Homo sapiens: one gene and its partners. The protein of the gene in region 2 purifies or fractionates together with the protein of the main gene of each other region. This does not show direct contact. Each region holds a gene or a part of one and is shown on either strand. Other genes may lie near its edges. The genes, in order: APOOL, AFG3L2, SPTLC1 and ZZZ3.

What was found.
Region 1: the proteins of AFG3L2 (region 2) and APOOL purify together in Homo sapiens (affinity purification with mass spectrometry; one large-scale study listed by BioGRID and IntAct). This does not show direct contact.
Region 3: the proteins of AFG3L2 (region 2) and SPTLC1 purify together in Homo sapiens (affinity purification with mass spectrometry, with the first as the bait; one large-scale study listed by BioGRID). This does not show direct contact.
Region 4: the proteins of AFG3L2 (region 2) and ZZZ3 purify together in Homo sapiens (affinity purification with mass spectrometry; one large-scale study listed by BioGRID and IntAct). This does not show direct contact.

The regions. Positions count from the first base shown.
Region 1 is NC_000023.11:85,005,245-85,013,353, reverse strand, and holds part of APOOL (MICOS complex subunit MIC27 precursor), read right to left. Parts: intron 1-8,109. UniProt on the Homo sapiens protein: Component of the MICOS complex, a large protein complex of the mitochondrial inner membrane that plays crucial roles in the maintenance of crista junctions, inner membrane architecture, and formation of contact sites to the outer membrane.
Region 2 is NC_000018.10:12,368,510-12,376,618, forward strand, and holds part of AFG3L2 (mitochondrial inner membrane m-AAA protease component AFG3L2), read right to left. Parts: intron 3,183-8,109; coding exon 3,083-3,182; intron 2,418-3,082; coding exon 2,340-2,417; intron 1-2,339. UniProt on the Homo sapiens protein: Catalytic component of the m-AAA protease, a protease that plays a key role in proteostasis of inner mitochondrial membrane proteins, and which is essential for axonal and neuron development.
Region 3 is NC_000009.12:92,041,329-92,049,437, forward strand, and holds part of SPTLC1 (serine palmitoyltransferase 1), read right to left. Parts: intron 6,381-8,109; coding exon 6,285-6,380; intron 5,941-6,284; coding exon 5,844-5,940; intron 4,726-5,843; coding exon 4,671-4,725; intron 1-4,670. UniProt on the Homo sapiens protein: Component of the serine palmitoyltransferase multisubunit enzyme (SPT) that catalyzes the initial and rate-limiting step in sphingolipid biosynthesis by condensing L-serine and activated acyl-CoA (most commonly palmitoyl-CoA) to form long-chain bases.
Region 4 is NC_000001.11:77,628,701-77,636,809, reverse strand, and holds part of ZZZ3 (ZZ-type zinc finger-containing protein 3), read left to right. Parts: intron 1-3,404; 5' UTR 3,405-3,455; coding exon 3,456-4,960; exon of another isoform or gene 4,961-4,975; intron 4,976-8,109.

The DNA of each region.
Region 1 (8,109 bases), on a different chromosome or scaffold from region 2:
AAAGAAATAACAAAATCAGAGCAGGACCAAATAAAATTGAAACAAAAAAATACAAGAGATAAATAAAACAAGGATCTGTTTATTTGAAACGATTAAGAAAACTGATTGACCATTAGAGAGATTAAAGAAGAGAGAATATCCAAATCAGCTCACGTAGAAATGAAAAGGGAGATATTACAACTGATACCATAGAAATGCAAAAGATCATTGAAGGCTACTAAGAACACCTTTGTGCACACAAACTAGAAAACCTAGCATAGATGGATACATTCCCAGAAATACACAATCCTCCTAGATTAAATAAGGAAGAAACAGAAACTGAACAGACCAATAGCGAAATCGAAACAGTAATTTAAAAATTGCCAACAAAAACAGATTCCAGGACCAGATGGATTCACAGCTAAGCTGTATCAGACACTCAAAGAAGAATTGGTACCAATCCTACTGAAACTATTACAAAAAATAAAGAAAGAGGGAGTCCTCCCTAGATCATTCTATGAAGCCAGTATTACCCAAATACCAAAACCAGGAAAGGACATACAAAAAAAAGAAAACTACAGACCAATATCCCTGATGAACACAGATGCAAAAATCCTCAACAAAATACTAGCTAACTGAATCCAAACAGCATATCAAAAAGATGAGCAAGTGGGTTTCATACCAGGGAGGCAGGGATGGTTTAACATACACAGGTCAATAAACGTGATACATCACATAAACGGAATTAAAACTAAAAATCATAAGATCATAAGATCACCTCAACAGAAGCAGAAAAAGCATTTGAAAAACTCCTGGCTCCCTTCATGATAAAAACCTTCTGCAAAACTGGCATAGAAGGGACAGATCTCAAGGTAATAAAAGCCATTTATGACAAACCCACAGCCAATACCATACTAAATGGGGAAAAACTGAAAGCATTCCAATGAGACCTGAAACAACACAAGGATAACCACTGTCACCACTTCTATTCAACATGATACTGGAAGTCCTAGCCAAAGAAATCAGACAAGAGAAAGAAATAAAGGGCACCCAAATCAGAAAAGAGGAAGTCAAACCACTGCTGTTCACCAATGATATGATAGTATACCTAGAAAAGTCTAAGAACTCATCCAAAAAGCTCCTAGATCTAACAAATGATTCAGTAAAGTCTCAGGTTACAAAATCAATGTACACAAATCAGTAGGACTGCTATACACCAACAACGATCAAGCTGAGAATCAAATCAATAATTCAATCCCTTTTACGACAGCTGCAAAACAGAAACAAAAAAATAAACAAACAAAAAAACTTCAGGAGGTGGAAGATCTCTACAAGAAAACTATAAAACACTACTGAAAGAAATTATAGATGACACAAACAAATGGAATCATATCCCATGCTCATGGATGGGTACAATCAATATTGTGAAAATGACCATACTGCCAAAAGTGATCTACGGATTCAATACAATTCACATCAAAATATCATCATCATTCTCCACAGAACTAGAAGAAAACAATCCTTAAATTCATATGGAACCAAAAAAGAGCCCACATAGCTGAAGTAATACTAAGCAAAAAGAACAAATCTGAAGGCATCGTATTACCCAACTTCAAACTATACTACAAACTAGGCTACAGTTACCAAAACATGGTACTGGTATAAAAGTAGGCACGTAGACCAATGGAACACAGTAGAGAACCAAGAAATAAAGCCAAATACTTACAGCCAATTGATCTTAGGCAAAGCAAATAAAAACAGAGTGGGAAAAGCACACACACCCTGTTCAACAAATCATGTTGGAATAACTGGCAAGCCACATGTAGAAGAATTAAACTGGATCCTTATCTCTCACCTTATACAAAAATCAACTCAACATGGATCAAAGACTTAAATCTAAGACCTGAAACCATAAAAATTCCAGAAGATAACATCAGAAAAACTCTTCTAGACATTGGCTTAGGCAAAGAGTAGTTCATGACCAAGAACCCAAAAGCAAATTCAACAAAAACAAAAATAAATAGATGGGACTTAATTAAACTAAAAAGTTTCTACACAGCAAACAAAATAGCAGAGAAAACAGACAACCAACAGAGTGGGAGAAAATACTCATAAACTATGCATCTGACAAAGGACTAATATCCAGTATCTACAAGGAACTCAAACAAATCAAGAAAAGAACAAATAATTTGCATCAAAAAGTAGGTGAAGGTCATGAATAGACAATTCTCAAAATATGCAAATGTCCAACAAACATATGAAAAAATGCTTAACATCACTAATTATCTGGGAAATGGAAATTAAAACCACAATACGATACCATCTCACTCCTGCAAGAATGGCCATAATTAAAAATAAAAAAATAATAGATGTTGGTGTGGATGTGGTGAAAAGGGAACACTTTTACACTGCTGGTGAGAATGTAAGCTAGTACAACCACTATGGAAAACAGTATGGAGATTCATTAAAGAACTAAAAGTAGAACTACTATTTGATCCAGCAACCCCACTACTGGGTATTTACCCAAAGAAAAAAAGTCATTATATAAAAAAGTCACTTGCACATGCATGTTTACAGCAGCACAATTTACAATTGTGAAAATATGTAACCAACCCAAATGCCCATCAACCAATGAGTGGATCAAGAAAATGTGGTATGTATACAACATGGAATAGTACTCAGACATAAAAAGGAAGAAAATAATGGCATTTGCAGCAACCCAGATGAAGTTGGAGAACATTATTCCAAGTGAAGTAACTCAGGTATTGAAAACCAACTATCATGTTTTCACTAATAAGTGGGGGCTAAGCTATCAGGATGCAAAGGCATAAAATTAAGATAATGCACTTTGGGGACTTGGGAATACTGGGAGGGGGTAAGGGACAAAATACTGCACACTGGAGACAGTGTAAACTGCTCAGGTGACAGGTGCACCAAAATCTCAGAAATCACCACTAAAGAACTCACCCATTTAACCTAAAACCACCTGTTCCTGAAAATCTATTAAAATTTTTTTTAAATGGGCAAAATATCTGAACAGATACTTCATCAAAGATACACAGATGACAAATAAGCGTATGAAAAGATGCTTAACAGCATATCATTGGAGAATTACAAATTAAAACAACAATGATATACCACTGTATACCTACTAGCAGGGTGAAAATCTGAAACATTGACGACGGTAAATGCTGGGGAGAACATGGAGAAACAGGAAGTCTCATTCATTGCTAGTAGGAATGCAAAATGATACAGCCACTTAGAAGGGTAGCTTGACAGCACTATTCACAATAGCAAAGATATGGAATCAACCCAAATGTTCACCAATAACAGATTGGATTAAAAAAATTGGTACATATACACCATGGAATACTATGCAGCCATAAAAAGAAATGAGATCATGTCTTTTGCATGAACATGGATGGAGCTGTAGGCTATTATCCTTAGCAAGTAAACGCAGGAACAGAAAACCAAATACCACATGTTCTTACTTATAAGTGGGAGCTAAATGATGAGAACTTAAATGATGAGAACTTACAAACACAAAGAAGGAAACCACAGACACCTGAGGGTAATGGGTGGGAGCAAGGAGAGGAGCAGAAAAGACAACTACTGGGTAATGAGCTTAACAGCTGGGTGATGAAATAATCTGCACAACAAATGCCCATGATACGAGTTTACCTGTGTAACAAATCTTCACATGTACACCTGAACCTAAAATAGAAGTTGAAAAAAAAAGTAAATAAATAAATAAAAGTAAAAGGCTCATTCACCATGATCAGTAAGTTTTATCCCAGAGATGCAAGGATGGTTCAACATATCCAAATCAATAAACATGATACACCACATTAATAGAATGAAAGACAAAAACAACATGATCATTTCAATGAATGTGGAAAAAGCATTTGGCAAAATTCAACATCCTTTTGTGATAAAAACTCTCAACAAATTAATTATCCAAGATATGTACCTCAACATAATAAAAGCCATATATGATAAGGCCACAACTAATATCATACCCAATGGTGAAAAGCTAAAAGCTTTTCCTCTAAGATCAGGAACAAGTCTCTTGCCACTTTTATTTAACATAGCACTGGAAGTTCTAGTCAAAGCAATCAGGCAAGAGAAAGAAATGAAAGACATACAAATTGGAAAAGAAGAAGTAAAATTGTCTCTTCTCCCAGATTACATGATATTATACATAGAAGATCTTAAATACGCCACCAAAAAACTGTTAGAACTAATAAATAAACTCAGGGAACTGCAGCATACAAAGTCAACATACAAAAAAGCAGTTACATTTCTATACACTATCGAAGATGATCTACCCAAAAAAGAAAGAAAGAAAGCAATCCCATTTAAAATAGCATCAGAAAGAATAAAACACTTAAGAATAAACTTAACCCAAGAGGTCAAAGAGCTGTATATTGAAAACTATCAAACCATAATGGAAAAAATTGAAGATACAAATGAATGGCAAGATATCCTATGTTCATGAATTGGAAGAATTAATGTTGTTAAAATATCCATACTACCCAAAGCAATCCACAGATTCAATTCTAGTGGCATTTTTCACAGACATAGAAAAAATAAACAATTGCAAAATTTGTATGGAATCACAAAAGACTCTGAATAGCCAAAGTAGGTGTACAACCAAAGCAAATGAAATCAGCAATTGCAAAGATATCTGCACTCCCATATTCACTGCAGTATTATTCACAACAGCCAAAACATGAAAACAACCTAAGTGTCTAATCGAAGTGTCTGCCAACAGATCAACGGATGAAGAAACTGTGGTATACACACACACACACACACACACACACACACACACACACAACGGGTTATCATTCAACCATAAAAAAAAGAAAGAAATCCTGTCATTTACAACAACATGGATAACCCTCAAGGGTATTATGCTGAGTGAAGTAAGTCAGACAGAGAAAGACAAACTGCCTGATTTTATTTGTACGTGGAATTTTGAGAAGTTGAACTCACTGAACTAGAGAATAGAATGCTGGTTCCCACAGGCAAAGGTAAAGGAAAGGCGAGAGGTTGGGAGGTTGGCCAAAGGGCACAAACTTTCAATGACAGGTAAGTTCAAGGGATATAATACACAGCATGGTGAAGTGATACATATAAACTAATTTGATTCTGGTAATCATTCCACAAAATATATGTATATCAAATCATCACACTGCACACCTTAAAATCAAACCATTTTATTTATCAGTTATACCTCAATAAAGCTGGGGAAAAAAAGAAAAAAAAATACATAAACCCAGAGGGTCTTATAGCTACCTATTCCCTGGGGACATCTTGAATTTACCATTCCCTAGAACGTCTTAATAGCTAAAATCATAAATTCAGCAAGTTTTTCTCTGAGTGCAACCTCCTATCATTACAGTTTCGATTTCCTTACTGATCTATTTCAGTTCTTACAGGTAAAGTTACCTACCTTAGAAGACTTTTAGTGAGAATTAAATGAAATAATGAGTATCAACAGCTTAGCGCAGTACCTGATACACAGTAAGTCCTCAATAAATCATAGACAAATTTTGATTTTAAGTATGCATTAAAAACAAATTATCTGCCAATACCCAAATTGTCTTCAAACTCACTCTCAACCTCTGGCATTAAATGAAACTTGGCTTTTATTTGACACTACTATTATACATTCCTCCCAATCCACTTAATTGAAGGCCAGACCCCCAGGAATTCCCCGATTCCAGAAGACCCGAGAGATCAGCACAGTCCTTGCTTCTCAAGCACCATGATCTCCACAAATCTTAGCCATTTCTAACACAGTTACCCTACTTTGCAATTATTAGAAATCGTTTCACCTTCAAGATCCTAAATGCTTGAAATTTCCCTCATTAAAATAGAATGCTCTTTCAACTCTCCTACTCTTTTTGAACTAGTTCTTCTTTCTCACTATGGCCATAAATCTTCTAGTACCCTAGTCCATCACTTCAATCTTCTTCTTTGTCTCCTTATCCACAGTGGATGACTATTTGGATAAATTCCCTAGATCTTCTATCATTCTCACTTTGACAACACTCAGCATTGGAGCAACCCCACTGTCTCCTCTTCCCCTCCTATGCTGTGAGCACTGCTGGAGAAAGTCACTACTAGAGCCAACATTAGCCAGGCCCTCACTTCTCAGCAATTATTAATATTTTATTCAATGTCTACTGATACTTTACTGAATTTCCTAAAGCACCTTTTCCAAGCCTATCCCATTCTTAAACTCCTAAAGGCATATTTTCCTCTCAGCAGATGACCTTCCACCCAGAAGATACAGACCTCCAATGTGAGCTCCCTCCTCTACCTCCTCCGTTCTTCAAAATCACTTGGTATCTTCACCTTCTATCTCGACCAACTCTGGCCTTTGAAGCAAAGTGTGTCTCCTCTTTGCAAGGTTAATCCCTCCACTTGTTCTCTTGATTTTACCACTTTCTTACAAAGTATGGTTAAGAGTCCAGGTTCAGGACTCATACCATGTGATTTCAGATCCAGCTCTACCACTTTACTCCTGTGTGACCTTGGAGTTACTTGACCTTTTTAAGCTTCTGTTTCCCTACCTGTAAAAAGTGATTAATATAAATTCCTACTCATAGGGCCAATGTGAAACATAAATGAGAGAATCCACATAAAGTGCTTAGCAAAATTCCTAGCACGTAGTCAATATTCAATAACACAATAGCTGTAAATACTATTATCTTTCCCTCTAGATACCTCCTGGTACATTTTCCCTTGTCTCCAAAGTAGCTCAAGTCTTCTGTCTCCTGTTTTGTTTTTAGTTTTTTTTTTTTTTAATTAAAAGACACCTTTTCTGGAATTTGCTACCCTCATTCCAAGATTTTGTTCCTTCTTTTCACCACCAAACTTCTCTAAAGAGTAATGTATAACTCCTTTCCAGAGGAAGCAAGGAGGAGTGGAAAGACTTTGGAGATAAATATACTGTTTGAACCTAGTTCTTCCACTTAGTGGTTGTATGACCTGGAGCAAGCAGTTTTTCTAAGCCTCCGTTTTTCCATCTGTAAAATGGATATATTACCCATTTCTTAGGGTCATCAAGAGGATTAAACTAAAATAATATATGTAAATCATCTGGCCAAAGTGGGTGCTAAATGAATGCCAGTTCTCCATCCCTTATTCTTTTCTTAACCCCATACAATCTTGGTTGTTCCTCTACCACTCTATTTATCTCTTTAGCTCACTTCAGCTCTTATTAGCATGGTTTTGAATAATCTGACTTCTCTAAACCTTAATTTTCATGTGTAAAATGGTAATAATACCCACCACATAAAGTTGTCTTGAGAATTAGTGAATTAACACATGTAACGTGTTTTAGCATAGTGCCTGGCCTGGAGTAAGCACTTAATAAATGATAACAGCAGCAACTTATTAATGGTGAAATCAAAGGACTGTTCAACTCTCTTCTTCTCAATGAAAACACACTATTCTGGTTTGCTTTTTGCCACTGACCATTCCTTCTGTCTCTGCACCTTCTCCATGAAGCCTCTTTTTACTCTCTTCAAACCAAGTGTGAGCTCTCTCCTTTTGAGCGTCAGAGCACTTTGTACTTCTCTTCAGGTAAGAAACTCCCCTTACTCTGAATCACAGTCATTTGTGTTATATGTGTTATATCTCCACCACTTAATCTCTTCTGTCCTCATTGCCTGGCACTTTATTCATGTAGAACATGTTGACTACCTAATATACATCAGACCTGTGCTAGGTACTACGGATACAAAGGTTAATATAATTACTGTCTTCAAGGAGCTTATAGTTTAGGTAGCTAGAACAGACAAGTAAGTAGTCTATATGTGCAGTGGAATAAATGCTTGGTTAAGAGTGTGCCCAGAGTCCTCTGGGAGCACAAACAAGAGTTATTAAAATAGACTGGCGAGGACCGGGCGTGGTGGCTCACGCCTGTAATCCCAGTACTTTGGGAGGCCCGGGGGGGGGGGGGGGTGAATCACGAGGTCAGGAGTTCGAGACCAGCGTGACCAACATGGTGAAACCCCGTCTCTACTAAAAAATAAAAATAAAAAAATTTAGCCGGGCATGGTTGGCATGCGCCTGTAGTCCCAGCTACTCAGGAGACTGAGGCAGGAGAATCGC
Region 2 (8,109 bases):
CTTTGCTTTGTAGGGAAATGTATGTAAGGAAAACTGTAAATCAGTCCTTGTTGTTGTTTTAGACGGAGTTTCACTCTGTCTCCCAGAGTGGAGTACAATGGCGTGATCTCAGCTCACTGCAACCTCTGCCTCCCAGGCTGGAGTACAATGGCGTGATCTCAGCTCACTGCAACCTCTGCCTTCCAGGTTCAAGCGATTCTCATGCCTCAGCCTCCCAAGTAGTTGGGATTACAGGAGCACGCCACCATGCCCGGCTAATTTTTGTATTTTTAGTAGAGATAGGGTTTCATCATGTTGGCCAGGCTGGTCTTCAACTCCTGACCTCAGCTGATGCACCCGTTTCGGCCTCCCAAAGTGCTGGGATTACAGGCGTTGAGCCACCGCACCCGGACCGAATACACTTCTAATGTCTTCAGTGACCATGAAGCAACCCCTCTAGTGTAGCAGGATGGGAGGCTACAGGCACCCGGTCATCCTCAGTGGCTATGTAACATGTGGCTTCATGACACATTCACTCCGCTATGCTGCATACGAGGGGCTTCTGCACCTCTGTCTCGAGTGGAGTCTGAGACAGGTATGATATGCACAAGCCTCAGCCCCCAGAATGAGGCCCAGGACTAAAAAACACGCAGTAAGCACACCACTAAAGCTGTGCAACACTCCAAACCACTCAGGGAGAAAGGAATGTCCACACAAAAGCAACCCAAAAGCTTGCATGGGTTATCATTACTCGGCCCCCACACCAAGACTCAAAGACCACCTAGCATGCACTGGGAGAACTGTAGGTACTGCTCCAATCTAGAGCCCCGGGGCTGTCACCAGCCCACACCAGTGCTTCTCCCTCCCCATGTCCCCTGGCTCTTACTCCTTTGCATTCTTTGGGCATATATTTGTCTGTCCAACTAGATGACAAGTACATTTAAAAACGTGGACTCCTCGAGGCCAGGTGCAGTGGTCACGCCTGTAATCCTAGCACTTTGGGAGGCAGAGGCGGGTGGATCACATGAGGTCAGGAGTTCAAGACCAGCTTGGCCAACATGGTGAAACCTCATCTCTTAAAAATTAGCTAGGCATGGTGGCGCATGCCTATAATCCCAGCTACTGTGGAGGCTGAGGCAGGAGAATCACCTGAACCCAAGAGGCAGAGGTTGCAGTGAGATCGTGCCACTGCACTCCAGCCTGGGCGACAGAGACCCCTCCTCAAAAAAAAAAAAAAAGAAACTGAATTACAGTTTTCTTTACATTTCCCTAAAAAAGCAAGGATGGGCCGGGCATGGTGGCTCACGCCTGTAATCCCAGCACTTTGGGAGGCCGAGGCAGGCGGATCACAAGGTCAGGAGATGGAGACCATCCTGGCTAACACAGCGAAACCCCGTCTCTACTAAAAATACAAAAAAAAAAAAATTAGCCAGGCGTGCGCCTTTAGTCCCAGCTACTCAGGAGGCTGAGGCAGGAGAATGGTGCGAACCCAAGAGGCGGAGCTTGCAGTGAGCCAAGATCATGCCACTGCACTCCAGCCTGGACGACAGAGCTAGACTCTGTCTCAAAAAAAAAAAAAAAAAAAAAAAAGCAAGGAAGTCAGTCAAAATGGGCACAGGAGGCCCACTCAGTCCCCCAGCCACCGTGCTCTAAAAAAGTCTCTCCGAATCCCTAAGGTGAGGTAATGCTCTGAGGAGCAATTTTTAAAACACTGCCCTAAACACAATATGTATCAAATAAATTGCATGTATTAGATTTCTACGATTTTTCTCAATGTTTTAAATTATGTGCCAGATATCTACCAAATATGCTTAGTTTGACCAGACAATACCTCTAAGGTAGCCTTAAATTACTTCAATTTGCAAAATGACAGAAAAATATCAACAGAAAATTAAGGTGAAATGTAACATAAGGTCTCTAGAATTTTATATGTACTTGCAACCTACAGCTTCACAACTGACTTACTATAACTTTCTTTTTTTTTTTTTTTTCTTTTTTTTTTGAGACAGGGTCTCTCTGTTGCCCAGGCTGGAGTGCAGTGGCACAATCACAGCTCCCTGCTGGGCTCAGGTGATTCTCCCACCTCAGCCTCCCAGGTAGCTGGGACTACAGGTGTGCACCACCATGTCTAACTAATTTTTTGTATTTTTAGTAGGGACAGAGTTTCACCACATTGCCCAGGCTGGTCTCAACCTCCTGGGCTCAAGTGATCCACCCGCCTAGGCCTCCCAAAAGGCTGGGATTACAGGCGTGAGACACTGTGCCCGGCCTGATAACTCTTTTCTTTGTTCAGTGGAAACTACCACCATTATACATGAGGGGAAAACACAAAATTCAAATATAATATTGTCAAAAGGTACCTTTTTTCTCTCCCATAACTTCTTTAGGTTCACTAGCTTTTTTTCCATTTTTTCCATTAGGAAAGTATTTTTCAAATCCTGTTAGAAAAAGAAAAAAAATACTTATCTTCAAACTAAAATTCATCAGGTTTGTGTTCATTTTGTTTTCAAAGCAGCTGATGCATCACTGAAAAGCACAAGCTGGCCAGGCGCAATGGCTCATGCCTGTAATCCCAGCACTTTGGGAGGCTGAGGTGGGCAGATCACCTGAGGTCAGGAGTTCGAGACCAGCCTGCCCAACATGGCGAAACTCCGACTCTACTAAAAGTACAAAAAATTGGCTGGGTGTGGTGGCAGGTGCCTGTAATCCCAGCTACTCGGGAGGCTGAGGCAGGAGAATCGCTTGAACCCAGAAGGCGGAGGTTGCAGTACGCCAAGATCGCACTAGTGCACTCCAACCTGGGCGACAAGAGCCAAACTCAGTCTCCAAAAAAAAAAAAAAAAGCACAAGCTAAAAGCATAACATTTCTTGTGTACAAGTACATCAAAGTCTAAATAATATAGTTCACAACCCAGAAGTGTTAAAGGAAAAAGCCTCCTTTTTGCATATCAATTTCATTATCTACAAATGTGTTACATTTGAAGATGACATATCTTCATCGCTGTAATCAGACATAAGTTGGAGGCAGGGGAATGGGTTACAGAAGGAGACAAAAGACCCAACCTAAGAATGTAGAACACTACAGCCACACCTAAGCATTTACCTTTTGGGGGTCGAGAACAGAATCTTTGATAAGCAGCAATTATATCTGTCAAAAGAGAATTTCTGCTGGCCCTTGCTTGAGTTGTAACAAATCGGTAAAGCTGCAACAAGACATAAAAATAAAACCATAGTTATATCAAGATAAAAAACTTAAAAGAGCTTCATTTCCTGGTCATAAAGTAGATGAAAGGTCTCTCTCTTCCACAGGTGGTTATGAAGTAACACAGAATGACTCCCTTAGTGAGGACTAGGATTACCTAGCACTAGGCCACTGATTCCAGCAAAAGAACCAGGAGACACACATTATTATCCAGAAAACAAGAATATTTCAAAATCAGACATAATGTAGAATTGCAATCCAATTATAATTATGTGACAACACATTCACTTTGATGATGTTTGTTTAATTTGTAGCATTCAAAAGACAAACCCTGGCCAGGCGCAGTGGCTCACACCTGTAATCCCAGTACATTGGGAGGCCGAGGTGGGTGCATCACGAGGTCAGGAGTTCAAGACCAGCCTGGCCAAGATGGTGAAACCCCGTCTCTACTAAAAATACAAAAATTAGCCAGGCACAGTGGCAGGTGCCTGTAATCCTAGCTACTCGGGAGGCTGAGGCAGGAGTACTGCTTGAACCCAGGCAGCAGAAGTTGCAGTGAGCCGAGATCACGCCACTGCACTCCAGCCTGGGCGATGGAGTGAGACTCCGTCTCAAAAAAATAAAAATAAAATAATAGTTATAAAAATTACAAAACCAAATAAAACCACCTCACATCCACTATAATCAAAAAGACAGACAAGTATGGGTGAGGATGTGAGAAACTGGAGCCCTGTACACTGTGCTGGTGAGAATGTAAAATGGTGTAGCCACTCTGGAAAACAGTTTGACAGAGCTCCAAAATGGTACCACATGACTCTATGGGTCACCATATGACCCAGCAATGCCATCCCTACCCAAGGAAGCTGAAAACACATGTCCACGAAAAATATGCACACAAATGTTCACAGAAGCCTTATTCATAACAGTCAAAAAGTAGGAACAAGCCAAACGTTCACCACCTGATGATGAACAGATAAATAAAATGTGGTATACCCATACAAGAGAATACCAGTCACTCAAACAAAGGAATGAAGTACTGACACGTGGATGAACTCTGAAAACATCATATTAAGTGAAAGAAGGCAGACACAAAAGGTCACATATTATGATTCCATTTATACGAAATGTCTAGAATAGGCAAATCCATAGAGAGATAGACACATTAGTAGTTGCCTAGAGTTGGGGGAATGATTACAGAGAAATGCGAAATGATTACTAATGGTCGCAGGGCTTCTTTCTGGAGTGCTGAAAATGTTCTGGAATTGGAGACAGTGATGATGGTTGCATAACTTTATGAATATGTTAAAAACCAATGAACTGTACATTTAAGATGAACAATGGTTTGTAAATTAAAATGTCAATAAAAAACAAATAAAACAGAATGAGATGATTTAACTTCAAATAAATACAGAATTCCACACAGCAAAACAGGACAGGAACACCAACACTGTTTTTGTCTGAGTGCAATACTGGCCTGGGAGACTTTGGAGCTTATGTTGTGTTACACCCTGCCCAACCACAGGAACACTTGGCCTATGAAATAACCACTGATAACAGATAAGAATGCAACATAAGAGTTTTTTTCCAGTGCCAAATCCATTAAGGGTGTAGATTAAAATGAAATGTTATTCAAGCTAGACAAGTCAACAACTCCAGGCCAGGTGCTGTCAAGCAGTGGGGTGTCCGAAGGGGAATCAGAACCAGTTCCCACCCCTAAGAAGCACAGAAACATAGGGAAGAAAATCATGGGACAAATCAGTTACACTATGGCATAACAATGTAACCAAACAAAAGCTCTGAGTACAGGGAACAGGAGTGGTGCAGAGGTAATATGAAGGGGTCTTTATATTGCCACGTCTTAGTCTTAGTCCTTTCTGTTCCGCTATAACAGAGTGCCTGAAGCTGGGTAATTTACAAAGAAAGGTTTATTTAGCTCACAGTTCTGCAAGAGGGGAAGTATGAGAAACAGGGTGCTGGGCTTATGGTGAGGGTCACATGCTAGGTCAAATTATGGCAGGAGAAGGTGCTACATCAAAACACGGTGGGAGAAGGTCAATGGCAAAGCAGCCACATACCATGAGGGAGGAACTTCTACTTTATAACAACCTAAGGTCTCTGAAATTAAGCCAGTCCCAATACAGCTCACAGAACTCACTACCTCTAGAATGGCACCAAGACACTCATGAGAGCTCCACCCCCATGGCCCAAACACCTCCCACTGGGCCCCACCTCTCAATACCACCACGATGGGGAACAAATTTCAACATGAGTTTTGGTGAGGCCAAACTCAAACCATAGTACCATATAAAGCAAGTCTTTATATCACCATAAAGTTTAGTACAGAACAGGGCACTGTATGCGCTCCATAAATATTGACAGAAAAGCCCTTTTTAGGCTCTATTTTCAAATTGTGTTGACATGGAATATCCCTAGCAATAATCCGTGACTGAATTTAACACTGAGGTTGTGTTCTATGAAGAAATCATCAATGAAACTTCTTCTCCTCTGCATATGTAATCCAAGATCTGCATGTCTAGCATTCAAAGAATAATGTAAGAGATACTAATTCACAAAATTTAAGTTGAGAGCACCGCATTTTGGAGAATTAGCCTTTATGTTTGACAACAGGAGCACTTTTCAGTTGCTTTATCATCAGTCTTATTCCTCTGGGCATCACACCTGAGAACTCATCTCTCAACACATCAGAATCTCTTCCTCACCGTGAAAGCAGTACTTCTGTCTCTGATCTTTAAGGGTAGCAGGAACATAAAGGAAAACCTGTCCTATCAGACTCCCTCACAGCACAGTAATGCCCAGGTGTCACTAGGCAAATCTTCAGAGAGTACCAAAGAGTATGTATCAGGACCGCGAACCCCCACACCCTCCGCAAATCAATCAGCTACAGCTGTCAGCACAGAGGACTTCCTTATACATCAGCATCTGAGTGATACAGGGACAATAGTGTCACTCAAAAGGAAAGCCTTTGGGTAACACTTCTGACATAAAACTGCAAACTCACAATGCAGATCCCCACCTGGAACTGTATGTCTGAATCCAATATTCATGAGCAGCAAAAGAAAAGCAGTCAGGCCGGGCAAGGTGGCTCACGTCTGTAATACTAGCACTTTGGGAGGCCAAATGGATTGCTTGAGGCCAGGAGTTTGAGACCAGCCTGGCCAACAAGGTGAAACACCATCTCTACTAAAAATACAAAATTTAGCCAGGCGTAGTGGCGGGCGCCTGTAATCCCAGCTACTCGGGAGGCTGAGGCAGGAGAATTGCTTGAACCCTGGAGGCGAAGGTTGCAGTGACCCAAAATCACACCACTGCACTCCAGTCTGGGCGACAGAGCGAGACCCTGTCTCAAAAAAAAAAAAAAAAGAAAAGAAAAGAAAAGGGATCAGAGCTTGGTAAAACAGGGAAATGGATACAGGAAACCGAAAAAGGACCTACCACACGGCAGCGTGGCGTGACCATGGCGAAGAAATTGATTTAAGACTGGCAAGGGAGCCTCAAGGAGTAAAAATCATGAATGCAGGCACTATTATTCCCCCTCCCCACCCCCGCTCTTTTTTTTTTTAGGAGACAGAGTCCGTCACCCACGCTGGAGTACAGCAATGCAATCAAAACTCACTGGAGCCTCAACCTCCCGCGCCAAGCAACCCGCCTTGGCCCCCCGAGTTGCTGGGACTATAGTCATAAGTCACTGAGCCCAGGTAAGAAAAAAAAAAAAAAAACAATTTGTAGAGGCCAGGAGCTGTGGCTCAGGTCTGTAATTCCAACACTTTGAGAGGAGGAGGCGGGAGGATCGCCTGGGTCCTGGAGTTCCAGGCCAGCCTGGGCAACTGGGCAAGATGGTGAACCCTATCTTTTGGGACGGAGTCTCGCTCTGTCGCCCAGGCTAGAGTGCAGTGGCCCGCTCTTGGCTCACTGCCAGCTCCACCGCCCAGGTTCACGCCATTCCCCTGCCTCAGTCTCCCGAGCAGCTGGGACTACAGGCGCCCGCCACCACGCCCGGCTAATTTTTTGTATTTTTAGTAGAGATGGGGTTTCACCGTGTTAGCCAGGATGATCTCGATTTTCTGACCTCGTGATCCACCCGCCTGCTGGGATTACAGCCGTGAGCTACCGCGCCTGGCCTCTCCAGAAACTTTTTAAAAATCAACCACGGTGCTGTAGTCCCAGATACTCCGGAGGCTGAGGCGGGAGGATCGCTTGAGTTTGGGGCTGCAGTGAGCTGTGTTTGCGCCGCTGCACTCCGGCCTGGGCGAAGAAGCAAAACCCCGTCTCTTAAAAAATAAAAATAAAAATAAAAATCGTAGATCGGAGGGTCTGCTACCCTACCCAAGCTGGTTTCCAACTCCTGGAGTCAAGCGATTCTCCCGCCTCGGCCTCCCTAAGTGCTGGGATCGCAGGCGTGAGCCCCGGCACTAGCCTATCTCCCCTTACAGTGAAGACGTTGAGCTGACTACAAGGGCGCTGGGATAGCAGGAGGCCAAGCCAGGTTCCCGTGGCCGACCCGGGGACCTCAACCACCACCCGTACACCAGTGCAAGGCTGAGGAACCGTGTCACTTAAACAGTGAGAGCGACTATTCGACACGTGAACCTTTCATTGAGACTGATCACGGCCATGGTTCTGTCAACACTCTATCATTATGTCAGAAACACGTATCAGGTCCCGTGTGTGTATCTAGAGGGATGGCTACCAACAGAGAAAGAGCCTCCTGCTGAGAGCAGGCCCTGATATGCAACGAACACAGAGTCCCTGCTATGAAAAGGTGACATTCTTAATAATAATAGCTAATACTGCCAGTCCTGGAATGCCCGCAATGGCCCCATTCAACAGACGGGAACACGGAGACTCGGAGAGGTTAGGCAGCCCGACTCCAAAACCCGTCCTTGCGACTACATCGTGCTCGTGCTGCT
Region 3 (8,109 bases), on a different chromosome or scaffold from region 2:
TAAAACCAAAAGCTAAATGTAAGAAGCTGAAGAAGAGTAAGAACACAGTGCAATGAGACAGTGCATAAAAATAAGAAAACACACTATGATGAAAACACACAAAACCAAATTTACATAAATAAAAAGTTAAAATAATATAGATATATGAGAGATAATCAACAACTATTCCCAAACCAAAGGCCCCAAGCCTAGATGGCTGTAAAGTGGGAGACCTACTCTCAACTTCTGAAGAAACGATCAAGCCTTGTTTTACTCAGTGCTTCCATGAAGCAGAAAGAGTGGAAAATAGCCAAATCATCTACCGAAGCTACCCTAACACTGACTCCTATGTTACGTAAAGTTGGTACAAGGTTATAGATCCATTTAAATTATAAACAGATATAAAAAGTCAAATTAAAATATTAGCTAAATAAATCTAACAGTGTAGAAAAAGATATTATAATGAAGTAACGGTTTTCTCAAGAATGCAAGGATGGTTTAACATCAGAAAATATTTCAATGTAATTCAGCCATAAGACAAATTTATGATTTACCTTAATAGATGTAAAAAAAATGGATAAAGTTCAACGTCTATTTATGATTTTAAAAAAAGGCCTTCAAATTTAGGAATCATTTAGCCAGGTGCAGAGGTACATGCCTGTAGTCCCAACTAGTTGGAAGGTGAAGGCAGGAGGATTGGTTGAGTCCAGGAGTTTGAGGCTATAGTGTGTTGACTATATCTGTGAATAGCCACTGCACTCCAGCCTGGGCAACATAGCACAATCCTGTCTCTTAAAAAAACCACAAAACAAAACAAAACTAGGAATAATTCAATAAAAGCTACTCACCAAAAACCCATAGCATGATGTTTTATACTTAATGAAGAAGTGCTTCTATACTGGGAATAAGGAAGGAATGTTTGCTATTATTGCCACTGTTCAATACAAATTAGGGACTCAGACCAAAGCAATAAAATAAGAAAATGAACTAAGACGCAAAAGCATTAGGAAGGAAAGAGAGAACACCATTATTGCAGATAACAGGACTTCCATGCACATCATCATAACACAATGAAACAATTACTGGAAATACTAAGAGTTTAGAAAGACTCCTGGATATAAGGTCAGTTTAGAGAAAATAATAATATTCTTATGAATCAGCAATAATCAAGTAGAAAATATAACAGAAAAGACAACCCCATTCATAACAGCAACAAAATCTATAGGATGTCTGAAAATTCCCTTTAAAGGTTCCATAAAGGTACAAGGGCTTTATAGGAATTCCATTAAAGGACACAAAGGGAGATTTAAATAGAGAGCTCATGTTCATGGATGACATTTCCCTCCACATTCATCAGAAAATTTAATGCAGTTCCAATTAAGATTCTAGCAATAATTTTGGAGAAACCCATATTCCAAAACAGTGATAAAAACAGACACTAGTGATAAACCTGTATTCCAAAACAGTGATAAAAACAGACAAAATCAAAAGAGTCTGAGGAATGAGCAAATATACCAATGGAATGGAAGAGACAGTTTAAAAACAGATCTAGGTACAAATGGGAACCTGGTATATGATACAGTACTGTCAACCAGTAGGAGAAAGGATGTTTTATACTTAGCCAGATGTTATTCAGAAATTGATCTCAGTAATCTTAAACTGAAATATTCTTCTCTTGACCAATTTCTTTCTCCAGCCACCATCTTGTTTCTTAGTCCCTCTTCAGAGAAAAACTCCTCAAAACAGTCATCTAGGCCGTGTCCACCTGTCTGGAACCTCCTTCAAGCAGGCATTTTACCCCACACTCCCCTGAAACTACTCACCAAGTCATAATACCTCTACATAACGAAGTCAAAGGATCAGTGTTCTGTTATCTGGTCTGGCCTGTCAGCAGCGGCATGTCACAGGCTGACCTCCTACATAAGCAATTTCTTCCCTGGTTTCCAGGACTCTAGGCTCTTCCAGCCTGCCTCTTCCTCACTGGCCACTCTTTCTCAGACTAGTCTTTGCTAGTTTCTGACCTCTTCACACTGAAATGCTTCATATAATATCCATACCCCAAGACTCAAACATTTATCTCTAGCTCAGTACTCTCCCTCACACTTCAGACTTGTATATCCAGCTGCTGCTCTGCACTCCATGTCTGATGGGCACTTTGGGCTTAACATAACCACTGCTGACCTTCCCCAGAAGGTATTTCTCCACAGTTCTGTCCCTCTCACTCATTAGCAACTCTACCTATTTACTCTGACCAAACCCCCTGAGCTCTACCTGGAGTCTTCTCTTTCTCACTCACCCTGCATATGAACTTCTGCTAGATCCAGTGTGCTCTCCCTTCAGAAGATACCCAGAATCCAGACACTTCGCAGGTCATGGCTCCCAACATGGTCAGAGTCACTATCACCTTTCACCTGCGTCAATCTCCTAACTGGTCTCCCTGCTTCTGTTCTTACTGCTGTTCAATGTATTTTTTCACACCATGCAAAAGTAATTTTGCTAGGGTATCAGATAGGCTGTTTCACTTTTTTGCTCAAAACCATGCCAGGGCTTCCTCTGTGTGCCAATGTCCTCATCACGGCTCACAAGTCCCTGTGTGCGGATGGCCCATGACCCAGCCCTCATCTTCCACCAGATTTCCCACTCCTTTCCTCCTGTCACATTGGCCTCTTTGCTATTTTGTTTACTGTTCTCTGTAACCATCTAGATACCAGCACGGTTTGCCCCTGCGACCCTTATGAATGTGTGTTTACTGTGAGGTGCCATGGAGTCTTCCAACTGTGGATACTGAGTAGGCAACTGGGTGTGAGACCTGCAGCTGCAGTGGTCCAGGGTGGTGATACGAAGCTGGGAGCTGTCTCTATACAGGTGTCATGAAACGATGTGGAGCTCCAGGTGTGGGAGAAGGCAATTCTTCAAGAAGGTAATGAGAAGAAAAGAGAAGCACAGACAAAGCCTTGAAGAGCAAGGTGTTGAAAGAAAGCCTTCAGAGGAGACCGAGATGGAGCCATTCAAAGATGTAAAAGGAAATCCAGGCGTGCAGTGTAGCAGAGTCCAAAGAAGGAAAGAGTGGTCACCTGTGCTGAAAACTATGGGGACATCAAGAAGATGAGCTCTGAAGATGGTCCACTGGATTCAGCAGTCAGTGGAGACCTCCACAAAAACAGTCCAGGCGAAGGGCAGTAGCAGAAGCCAGGTCTCAGAGCTGCCAGTGTAAGTGAAGACGTGGAGATGATAGCTACTGAGAGGAGCAAAGACATGGGGAGTTGCAGAGGGAAACGTCAGGTGACAGGCAAGAGGAATTTAAAGTGGACATGACTGCTAATCAAATAACACAAGAAAGGGGACAGGCTGATGACAAAGTAGCAGGGACAAGCAAAGGCACTCAGTCCTTAAAAAAAGGGCCTGTGGTAGTTGGAGCAACATTTACTGGTCTACAGGAGGGAAGACTGGTTCAGATACCCACAGGTGTGTAGATTTGTCAGGAAATATGACAGAGTCCCAAGTGACAGCATAAGGCCAGGCTGTTAGCTAAAAGTGAGGGGAGTGAAGACAGAGGATTAGGAATTTTGGAAAGAAAAAGTGTGATACAGCTGGGGTAAGTGGAGATTAGACTTAGAAAAAGGCAGGTTAACACCATAGAGTGAAAGGCATGTAAGGCTAGCACTGATGCATTTCCAGTGACTCCAATATGCTAGGCTGTGTTGGCATATTAATATTTCACAAACCAATGGAACTGGAACCAATACAAATATATCTCTCTACCATAAATCATGCAAGAACTGCTGTTACTATCACACAGACACACCCAGAACTTTAATGTCTCTGCCCCTTCTTTATCTGGAACAGCTGTGATGTACTCATTTATCAATTGTCCTTTTCTTTCAGTTAAGTCTCCAGTTTCCATATCCGGAACACAGATAGGACTTTCATGACCAAGAAAGCATGTTTAACCTTAGGAAAGGCAAAAAGAAAGACCTCGGGCAATGTGAAATCACTTTATATAAGACCAGAAATGTGCCTGGAGATATCACCAACCTCCATTTTTTTTTTTTTTTAACTACAGAGGAATCTTAAAGAGTGACTCTTCTAGATGACAAGTTAGTGGGTGCAGCACACCAGCATGGCACATGTATACATATGTAACTAACCTCACAATGTGCATATGTACCCTAAAACTTAAAGTATAATAAAAAAAAAAAAAGTGACTCTTGTGTAGTAAAAAAAAAAAAAAAAAAAAAAAAAAAACACTGATAAAATTTCACTTGTTTCTTTTTCTTGTGTTAAAACTTAGTAATTTATTAAAAAGTAACACAGATGGTATGAACCCAGTCATCTAATTACATAATATATAATGGCATCCCTGTGTGTGCAGACATGGAGAGATGCTTCAGTGTTTACCCTGGTTATTTCTGGTGGTAAGATGTTGGGTTGTTATTTTCATCTTTCTATCTTCTGTACTGCTGTAATATTTTATTAATGAGTTTGTTTCATTTTCAGAAAAACAAAGTCACGATTCTTTAAAACAGATGATCTGGTTTTACACAAATAAACCAATGTGAGTGAACTAAGTTTTTGGTTTCTTAGCTGCAATCTGGTCAAACTGACCCAAGCCTAGAAATTTAAAACTTTCCATTAGTTGTTAAGTGTGGTGCAGATAAACTTTATGTTGGTTGAAAATATATAAAACTCACCCTTGTAAAGCTTTATGAATTTGTCCGCACTTTTCCTTCAACACTGCAAAAATACCTAGATGAAAAAAATACGTTTGAGAGTCTATTTGAAACTTATGATAGTACTAACCTAAAAATATTTTTGAAGACCCAGATCAAGTTCATCAATTTAAAATGCTACAAATCCTTCTACATACTAACAGAGCCAAGAACCCATACTCCCCTGAAGGCCCAAGCTTTGTCTCTGGTGCGTGCTAACTGGCCCCTTCTCACCTCAGTATCCCACTTTCAACAAACCTGGAATGATGCTTTCAAGAACAATCAATGCCTCTTGTTCTCATCAAGATCCTAATCTGGCTAAGAATCAAAGGGTACAAATTTATTGCTTATTTCTTTATCCTAAACAATTTGGTAAAAAATCAACTATAGTAAAGTAATTTTTACAATCTTTTCTTGATATTTTCCTTTTTTATTCAAGGAAAATCCCAAAACTAAAGTATCTGATCAGAAGGTAGGCGTGCCAGGCCATCTGAGAAGCAAGCATATGAATGAGCACAGAGACACACATTTTCTGGTTCTCTGAATTAGTATCAGTGATGAAGATTCAGAAATACTGTACCGGGTAGGGCCTGCTGCTCCCTTTCCGTTTTAAGCTTTGCAAAGGTGGCACTGTCATAGCCAAAGGCCACATTTTAAATTCTTAGTAGACTTTTTATTTTTCCCACTGAGTAAGTTCTTTGCTGGTAAACCCGGCTTGGCCTCAGTACCAACTGATGATTCAAAGGCTAAAGGTGAAAACTCACAATATTTATAAAATTGCACAGATAAAAAAGCAGCATGCTTCAGCTGATTTCTCAAAAAACTATTAACCAAATAAAGACTGGCTTATTTACACCAATGGAACGTTTAGGCCCAGAACTGGCTGAGAGCCCCTCGTCCTCCCAGCATCTCCACCCACTATCTGAGCTAGCCTTGCTTTGGCTCTGGCTCTGGCCCCAAGCACAGGAGAAAAGCTCTGACCCCAAGTCCTTGGGGCAGGAATAGCTTCTTCACTGCCATTCTTCCTATGAATGCCATATAATGTAACTGCAAACCAGTTTTGTCTGGCAAATAATTTCTCCAGTAAGTAAATCAGTAACACAACTAACGTAACCTGAAATCTCTTTGATTCCTTGGGTTTTTAAAGGGTTATACCTGGATTCTCTTCCATGATGTTGAGGGCCTCAATTGCTGCAGCAGCTAACAGGGGAGGTAACGAAGCTGAAAAGCAGTATCCCTGGCCGGAAAGTCGCTGAGAAGAAACAAATGAAGACATATACACATTCTCTGTCCTTTCTAGGTAAACATTTGAAAGGCACCAGTTCTCTAGAACAACTACTGAACAGTGTGTACATGTGGTGAGGGGGGTAAGATCCAGCCATAAATAAACATTATACGTGTAACAGCAACAAGACTTTTTGTTAAATGTGAGATCATTTCTAAATAGAAATATTTTGAGTGATTCTTTAAAAATTGACATTTAAATAAAAATTGTGTGATAAACTAAGTAAAATTTCGTATTTCAAAATTATATTTTGAGGTGACCAATGGAGAAATTAGTTTCAGTTTTAGCTCCTGTTTTTAAAAAGAACCCACCTGATGGTCAATTACAAAAGACCTGCCACAGCAGAAACCTCCAATAGAAGCAAGTGCATTCTCCATGTTGGCACTGATAAGATCAATATCATCAATCTGCCGGAAAAGGAGGAGTGACAGTTATTCCACAGTTTAAAGAAAAAAAAGGCCAACTTCAAGCCTAGAGACAAAATTTAACAGCATTAAACTGTCTGTTAATATCTGGATTCAAACTACCTATCTACATGAAAATAAAAAATAAACCATATAACATCTATCGCTGAATGAACTGTAGTCTCATGGCCCATCTGAAACTGTCTCATTTTATACATTTTTACCATTTCATTATACATGACAAATTAACTCACAGCAAAGACAAATAAATTATAAGAAAATAAAACCCAAAGCTGTTCGATATTAAAAGTAGTCACAGGTACAAAATAAGACTATTTCCTCGCTAAAACAGTGGTCTAGCTGGCCTTCCTCATGGGATGCACTGAGATAAATAAAAAGTCTATCGAAGTTTTGAGCACTTTATTCTTGTATTCAGTTTGCCTCTCAGCATTTCATAAGTCAATTTATCCAAACGTCATGGCGATGGAATCTTTGACCAACTGGACAGCAGAAGAACCTAATGTGCTCTAAAATGACCTAATGGGCTTTGAGTCCTACATCTTTCTGACCACTCAGAACTCCTTCGGTCCTCATCTTTGGGTCCAGCCCTCAGCACCAAGTTCCATTCTGGGCACACAGTAGGCATTCAATCATTACTTACTGATGGCCATGTTAATGGATTGTCAGAACACAGCTAGTGTTTTCCTTAGTGTTTCATAGATCCAGCAGAGTTTTGAGAAACTCTGCACTCCTGCCCTTTTTAAAAAGCATGTTTAAACCTTTCATTATGAAAAATTTCAAGCCTGAACAAAGTAGAACAGAACAAAGAATCCCCATCACCCAGATTCAAACATTATCAACTCAAGGACAACCTTGCTTCACCTATATCCCCTACCACCCTCATCATTTCTTTGTAGTGAGTCCCAGACTTCATGGGGTTTCATCTATAAACATTGCACTGTGTATTTCTAAAAGATAAAAACTCTCTCAAAACATAATCACAAAACTAGTATCATACTTAAGACATTAACAATTTTTAAATGTTAAGTTTAAATTTGATGTTAAATATATTCAAATATTCAGTGTTCAGATATCTCTGATTGTCTCACCAAATTTTCTTTTAACAGCATTTGTTTGAATCAGGATCCAAATAAAGCCCGTACATTCTGCTCTCTACTCTCAGGCGCTTGTGAGTATTTCCTCACAGTATTTCCCAAAGTGACAACTGCTGGAAGCATTCACAAAACTACAACAGTGAAGTTCAAGTTTTTTCCTCCATAAAAATTTTCATGCCTTAAAAAAGGCTGTAGTGTACTGCTAAATCTGCTTGAATTACACTTCCATTTATCTTTCCATTTATTCCATTTACCTCCTCGGTGCATGTAACTGCTGAATGTCAGTCTGCCTTGGAGGAGGTGCTTCCATCCAACCTCCCGGGATATTCACTCTGCTTTACATTTTTCTCTGGGACTATATGGTTAGCGGGATGTCGATAATGTAAGGCAATTTTACGTTTTATAGTTCAACTCTGTAACACAGGTTGCACAGCTCTTATGCGCATGTTTTGGAGAAAAAGCTTTCTGTAACTCTTCCCATGGTGGTTGGTAAGACAGCTGTTCAAGACTGGCTGACTTCCTCTGCCCTGAGGCTCCAGGAGCAAAACCCACTAGGCACTGCGGGCAGTCTGGGTCCATTTCCCTCAGAAAAGGAAACATGACACCTCATTCTGTTT
Region 4 (8,109 bases), on a different chromosome or scaffold from region 2:
TTAACTTTTGTATTAATCAGTGTTTTCATATTTTAATCAGTGGAATGGTGAAAAATTAAGATAGGCCTTACTATACGTGATTTTTTTTTTTTTTTTTTTTTTTTCAAGACAGGGCCTTGCTCCCATCACCCAGGCTGAAGGGCAGTCACATCACTACACCCTTGACTTCCCAGGCTCAAGTGATCCTCCCACTCAGCCTCCCTAGTACCTGGGACTACAGGCAGGCTTCACTACACCTGGATAAATTTTTTGTATTTTTAGTAGAGACAGGGTTTCGCCATGTTGCCCAGTTTGGTCTCGAATTCCTGGGCTCAAGTGATCCACCTACCTCGGTTTCCCAAAGTCCTGGGATTACAGGCCTGAGCCACCATGACCAGCTTATAGGTGATATTTTATAGTAAAGAATATATGTATAAAAAAAAGGTTTTTAGTACTACTAATAATAGGTTCATTTCATCCAAAATAGTCTCTCTTTGAGAAGTTTGTACTGCAAGGCAAATTTTGCTCCCATTCAGATTGGTGTGGAAAGAAAAGGTTAAGGAAGTCTTATTATTGGAATAATTTAAGAGGTTTTTATGCCCTTAATTGGGATTGCATTTTAAAAAGTAAAGACTAACAGATTCTTTTGTGTGTTTATAAAGTATTTCTATTGTCAGTATTATTTTTGAACCATAAATTATGAGTATAGTTGAATTTACATTAAAGATAATATGTATTAGATTTTGTAGGCATTTTAGTTATTAAATTTAACTTAGCCTTATGCTTTTTTTGTGCATTTACATACATATTTAATATTTAAAAATAAGTAATCTTAACCCTTTAGAGTGCCAGATTTGGATACATGAAACAAGTAAGTTGCTTTTCATGTATTTCAGTTTGTGTTCTTTTCTTTTTATTTTTTTTTGAGACAGAGTCTCGCTCTGTTGCCCAGGCTAGAGTGCAGTGGCGCGATCTCGGCTCACTGCAACCTTTGCCTCCTGGGTTCAAGCGATTCTCCTGCCTCAGCCTCCCGAGTAGCTGGGATTACAGGCATGTGCCACCATGCCCTACTAGTTTTTGTATTTTTAGTAGAGACGGGGTTTCACCATGTTGGCCAGGCTGGTCACGAACTCCTGACCTCAAGTAATCCGTCTGCCTTGGCCTCCCAAAGTACCGGGATTACAGGCATGAGCCACTGCCCCTGGCCAGTTTGTGTTCTTTTAAAACATCATTTGAAGTTTAACTTAAATGTTTTACAATTAAAAGTGGAAAATTATGGGACACTCAGTGTTTGTTACCCATGAAAGAAACAGATTGTAATCTTCATGATAATATATTAGCAAACGATAATTAAATGTCAGCTGTTCTTTTAATGAATCCCCCAAACAATGAAAGTTTACTACTGTAAGAAATGTGTTTCTAAGTTCTGATTTGTGTCTTGTACTTATTGTTCACTTGGTTGCTATGAAATTCTGTAGAACATATAACCATGCTTTAATTCCAGGGCTAGTTTTGTGATTCTTATAAGATTTAAAAAAATTGTTAATTAAAAATTTAAAAGTATGCCATACTTTGAGACAACACTAAACTCAGGCAACTTAAATATTTTACAGGGTACTTTCTCACTTAATTCACTTGTCAGCAGGCAGGAACAGGGAGATTATTTCCTGTAGTGTTTCTTTTTTATATGTGGTAGCATGTTGCTGTGTCTTCTATAATTCTTCCAAACTTTCCACTGTTAGATAGTTCTAGTTGAAGCAAGGAGAAATTGTGTTTGATTTTTAGGGGTAGGAGTCAGAATGGCATTTGGAGGTTTACATGAGAAGGGAGACTGTTGATGACCAAAGGCAGGAGGAAGGGACTGTGAAACTTTGCACTATTGCCACCACTGGCCTCTTTCTCTAACTAATCATCCTGCATCTCATTCAAAGTTAGGAAATAAAATGACAGGGTACCTTGTGAAAACTAAACAGAAGAGGAGTCGGGGAATAGAGACTTCAAATATTAACAGCTCCTTTATTCTGCTTGATGGGAGAGCCTCTGGAAAATATCACCAAATCACTAGTTTACCCAAATGGATCAATCAAGGCATTTTTCTATATCCCTTACATTTCTGTCATATAAACCTCAAGCATCCACACCAGAATACCTGCTCATCTCCCAAACCACACATTAAAACTGGCACTGGCATATGCTATACACAGGAGTTCAAAGAAGGAAAGGGTGGGATTACAGGAGTAGTCTTGATTTCTTAAATGTAAGTATTTGCTTCAGAGGCTTCTTCCCCATTTTCTTTTCTGGTCTTTGGAACACTCCCTTTCACTTGCTAATTTATGGCTTTATTTCTAGAGACTAGGAAGGCTTGGGTTTGCTTTGTTTTGTTCTTAGCCAATGCAAGCTAGCATTGTGATTTTTGTCTATTTAGTTATGAAAAATTATACTGCAATAAAAAATTTTTGGATGCCAGATTATTATTAAGGGATTTGATCTGAAACTCATTTTAGCAAAAGTAAATTAAAAAGAGGAGAGCCTGCCTTTCTGTATACCGGGAACATTTTGAAAGAACACGAGAAATGATTGGAATAGTTTTTTGAAAGATAGCTGCTATATAAGTTCAAGATTATTATTTTATTTATTTTATTTATTTATTTATTTATTTTTTTGAGACAGTCTCACTCTGTCGCCCAAGCTGGAGTGCAGTGGCATGATCTCGGCTCACTGCAAACTCTGCCTCCCGGGTTCAAGTAATTTTCCTGCCTCAGCCTCCTGAGTATCTGGGATTACAGGCGTGTGCCACCACACCTGGCTAATTTTTGTATTTTTAGTAGAGACAGCGTTTCACCATGTTGGTCAGGCTGGTCTTGAACTCCTGACCTCATGATCCTCCCGCCTCAGCCTCCCAAAGTGCTAAGATTACAGGTGTGAGCCACTGCGCCCGGCCGAAGATTATTATTTTAATGACCAAAATGAAATCACATCTTTAGGATAGATCTCTTCTGGGTGTTTTATGCCTGAGAGGCAGATACACAGTGAGGCAGTTATGGTCTCTAGAGCCCTGCCTTGCTACTTACTAGAGTTGTGACCTTGGATAGAATATTCAGAGTGTGCTTTAATCTCATTCGTGAAGTAGGGATGATAGTAGCACCTATCTGAGTTGTTGTGAGACTTAAGTGAGTTAATGTATGTAAGGCATATAGAAAGACTCATGGAACATATTAAGTACTGTATGCTTGTTAGCTATAATTTATATCATTATTGGAAACGTTAAAGAATTTTTATCACATAATTTAATATTGGCAGTTATATAGATAGTTATAGACTGTAATGTCCAAGTATACTTGGATTAAAAAGTTATAGCTTTATACTTTCGTTCTGGGTATATTAACTATTACCTTTTTCTCATTATTTTGTTTACATTTTTGAAGGTTTCCCAATGAGTGGATCATGATGACCGTATTGTAGGGACTTGCCATAGTATGGCTGCTTCCCGATCTACTCGTGTTACAAGATCAACAGTGGGGTTAAACGGCTTGGATGAATCTTTTTGTGGTAGAACTTTAAGGAATCGTAGCATTGCGCATCCTGAAGAAATCTCTTCTAATTCTCAAGTACGATCAAGATCACCAAAGAAGAGACCAGAGCCTGTGCCAATTCAGAAAGGAAATAATAATGGGAGAACCACTGATTTAAAACAGCAGAGTACCCGAGAATCATGGGTAAGCCCTAGGAAAAGAGGACTTTCTTCTTCAGAAAAGGATAACATAGAAAGGCAGGCTATAGAAAATTGTGAGAGAAGGCAAACAGAACCTGTTTCACCAGTTTTAAAAAGAATTAAGCGTTGTCTTAGATCTGAAGCACCAAACAGTTCAGAAGAAGATTCTCCTATAAAATCAGACAAGGAGTCAGTAGAACAGAGGAGTACAGTAGTGGACAATGATGCAGATTTTCAAGGGACTAAACGAGCTTGTCGATGTCTTATACTGGATGATTGTGAGAAAAGGGAAATTAAAAAGGTGAATGTCAGTGAGGAAGGGCCACTTAATTCTGCAGTAGTTGAAGAAATCACAGGCTATTTGGCTGTCAATGGTGTTGATGACAGTGATTCAGCTGTTATAAACTGTGATGACTGTCAGCCTGATGGGAACACTAAACAAAATAGCATTGGTTCCTATGTGTTACAGGAAAAATCAGTAGCTGAAAATGGGGATACGGATACCCAAACTTCAATGTTCCTTGATAGTAGGAAGGAGGACAGTTATATAGACCATAAGGTGCCTTGCACAGATTCACAAGTGCAGGTCAAGTTGGAGGACCACAAAATAGTAACTGCCTGCTTGCCTGTGGAACATGTTAATCAGCTGACTACTGAGCCAGCTACAGGGCCCTTTTCTGAAACTCAGTCATCTTTAAGGGATTCTGAGGAGGAAGTAGATGTGGTGGGAGATAGCAGTGCCTCAAAAGAGCAGTGTAAAGAAAACACCAATAACGAACTGGACACAAGTCTTGAGAGTATGCCAGCCTCCGGAGAACCTGAACCATCTCCTGTTCTAGACTGTGTTTCAGCTCAAATGATGTCTTTATCAGAACCTCAAGAACATCGTTATACTCTGAGAACCTCACCACGAAGGGCAGCCCCTACCAGAGGTAGTCCCACTAAAAACAGTTCTCCTTACAGAGAAAATGGACAATTTGAGGAGAATAATCTTAGTCCTAATGAAACAAATGCAACTGTTAGTGATAATGTAAGTCAATCTCCTACAAATCCTGGTGAAATTTCTCAAAATGAAAAAGGGATATGTTGTGACTCTCAAAATAATGGAAGTGAAGGAGTAAGTAAACCACCCTCAGAGGCAAGACTCAATATTGGACATTTGCCATCTGCCAAAGAGAGTGCCAGTCAGCACATTACAGAAGAGGAAGATGATGATCCTGATGTTTATTACTTTGAATCAGATCATGTGGCACTGAAACACAACAAAGAGTATGTGTAAATATGGTAACCATGAATTCTGCTTTGTTTATTATTCCCCAAGTTTTTCAGTATCTATTCGTAGTGTTTTTATTACAGCCAAAATTAATGTTTTCACTAAAATTTTAGGTTTAATATGATTTTCTCAACTCTTAGAAAAACTCCAAAAAAAGACTTAAACTCAACTTTACACGTGTGTTCTATGACAACATGGTCTTTCCAGTTCTGATATTTCATGTCTCAATTAGAAAAGACATGGTTGGTAGTGTTTTTGTTTTTTTAATATGTTTTATATCATTTTTAGTTAATTTATACAATGGAAACACATTGAGTTACCACAGTATGCTTTGATTTATAGTTCTAGATAGCATAGGACAATTAATGAGTGCTTAGACATCATCCAGATATGTGAAGTCTGGCAGGCTTGACATCTACTTTTATCTTACTTACATTTAATTCCCAATTAAAATTTTTTATTAAAAAATGTGCTTTATGCATCATCTTTGACTTTGACTTAGAGAAGTGGATATTACTATTAACACTATGACAGTATATTGTAATTAGCATATTAGCAAGGGTTAGTCTACTGGATAGTTTACATAAAACATTTGACATAGCTTTTCCTGATACTAAATATAAAGGAAGACTATCTTAAAATATTATCAGCTCTCAACCTTTGCTAAGTCACTGTTGTAAATAAAGAATTCTGTATCCAAATTTTTCACAATATTTCTTGCCTAGATTTCCTATAAAGTATTCAGGGCCATAACACAAAAGATTTGGAGCTTACTATGTCTAGATAATCCTGAAAAGAACTAGAACACACAGTGCTCATCATAAATATCATGATTAGCAACAATAAAAGACAGACTTATGTAATAAGTTAATTACCTTTATTGCTACAGGGTAGGCTTTTGAATTAATATCACAACCAGATTATATAGACTGTACATAAATACTTTGATTTGAGGAACATTTCTAGTGGTTTTGTTGTGACAATTGCCAGACCCTGGTATGTGTCAGATCAAAGTATCAAATCCTGGTTGTGGGACATAATATTTTTTTTGCCATGCATTGTAGATAGTGTAGATTTGTATATGGTAATACAGTGGTCTTTCAGCATAGGCCCCTTCTGAAAAGTTTTCTTCTGCTTTCTTTTGAAATACTATCTTAATATTGTATTTGATAGTTCATGTCATCTGAGCATTTTACAATTTTGTGAAAATGTTAGGAGTCTCGAGTATTTGGAATATTTGAAGTCCAGTTTTAGATAGCAAAACAACTCATAAATGAAGTTTTTTTTGTATTAGAAATAAGTTGAGTTCTGCTGTTCATATATACTGTCAGTTTTTTTGTTTGTTTGTTTGTTTTTGTTTTTCGTTTTTTGAGACAGCATCGCACTTGTTGCCCAGGCTTGAGTACACAGGTGCAATCATGGCTCACTGCAACCTTGACTTCCCTGGGCTCAAGCAATCCTCCCATCTCAGCCTCCCAAGTAGCTGGGACTACAGGCACATGCCACCACTCCTGGCTAATATTTTTTTGTATTTTGTAGAGGCAGGTTTTCACCATGGTGCCCAGGCTCGTCTTAATCTCCTGGGCTCGATTGATCCTCCCACCTCAGCCTCCCAGAGTATTGAGTATAGGCATGAGCCACTGCACCTGGCCTAGTATCAGTTTTTAAAAGTAGACCTGTTTATCTGCAGTGCAGGGAAGGAGAGCGTATGTCTTAGGAAAATACCAAAAACTAAAGAAATGTGAATTTTTATAAAATGATATATGTTAGTTCTGTTCTTTGCTTTTTATTGTTTTAGTCTTGACTCGTTATTGATTGTGGAAATTTTTTTTCTAGTAATTCACTACAGTATTACTTTTTGTAAGAGATTGCCCGATAATAATTCTGAAGGATGATGTTCACATAAAACAGTTACCTAAAGATACAGTCATAACATTGATATTCCACATTCATAACCCTTTGAGGATGAGAACAATACAGCTTAATTGGTGCTTTTATACATTTTATATAGTGTGCTTTTATATGTTTATTTTTCATGTGTTCCTTAAGATATAGAGACTCCTTTGGAATTTGGATGCTAGTTGCTTTGTTAGAACAGTGTTTTCAAATTAATGCCTCATTGGGTGACATTGGGGAAAAAATTACTGATTCTTGCCTTTTTGCCTTGCTCCAGATCTTTTGAAGGATAGCACTTTTTTTGTTTGTTTGTTTTTTGTTTTGGAGACAGAGTCTCACTCTGCCACCCGGGCTGGAGTGCAGTGGCACAGTCGTGGCTCACTGCAGCTTTGACCTACCTCCCAGGCTTAGGTTATCCTCCCACCTCAGCCTCCCAAGTTGCTGCTGGGACTACAGGTGTACGCCATCACACCTGTCTAATTTTTTGTAATTTTAATTGAGACAGGGGTTCGCCATGTTGTCCAGGCTGATCTTGAACTCCTGGGTTCGAGCGATCTGCCCGCCTTGGCCTCCCAAAGTGCTGGGATTACAGGCATGAACCACCTAACCTGGCTAGGATCGCACTTTTGAGACTTTTCTCTTTTTTCTTTTTTTTCAAAGGAAGCAAATCAGAAATGAGATGGAGTATCATGATTAGCATCTCAGAGCTAATTTAAGGAAAATTGGGAGAGGGTGTTTGATCATGTCAGATCTAATCTCTTTCAGTAAAGTCTCTTTCCTCCCCCATACCTTCATTGTCTAGAGCCAAGAGTTGGTTGGATATAATGTTGGCTCTTTTTAATCCAAGTTGCCATCGCTAAAAGTAGCATCATGACACCTGTCTGGTGCTTTCAAGTCTCAAGTAAATTTCTGGCAGTTTGAAAATGATGTTAAAAAGCACTTGGGTTTTAAAAAAAGGCACTTGAAGGAGATGGTTTATTCTCCTCCTGTACACACATATGTACATACCTTGTCAAATGTTACTTCTCTTCCTTATTCTCCCTGTGCTAGAAACGTTCTCCAGGTAATTGCTTTTTGAAACCGAGGTTGAGCATTGCCCAGCCTAAATATGAATATCTCTACCAGTAGGGAATGAATACTTCTTGATAGCCAGTTTTAAAAGTAAGTTGTTAATAGAAAATACTGAGCATGGCATAATTCTTTGTCTAGAGCCAGGAGGACATAACTCTGTGTTATTCTAGTTGAAACT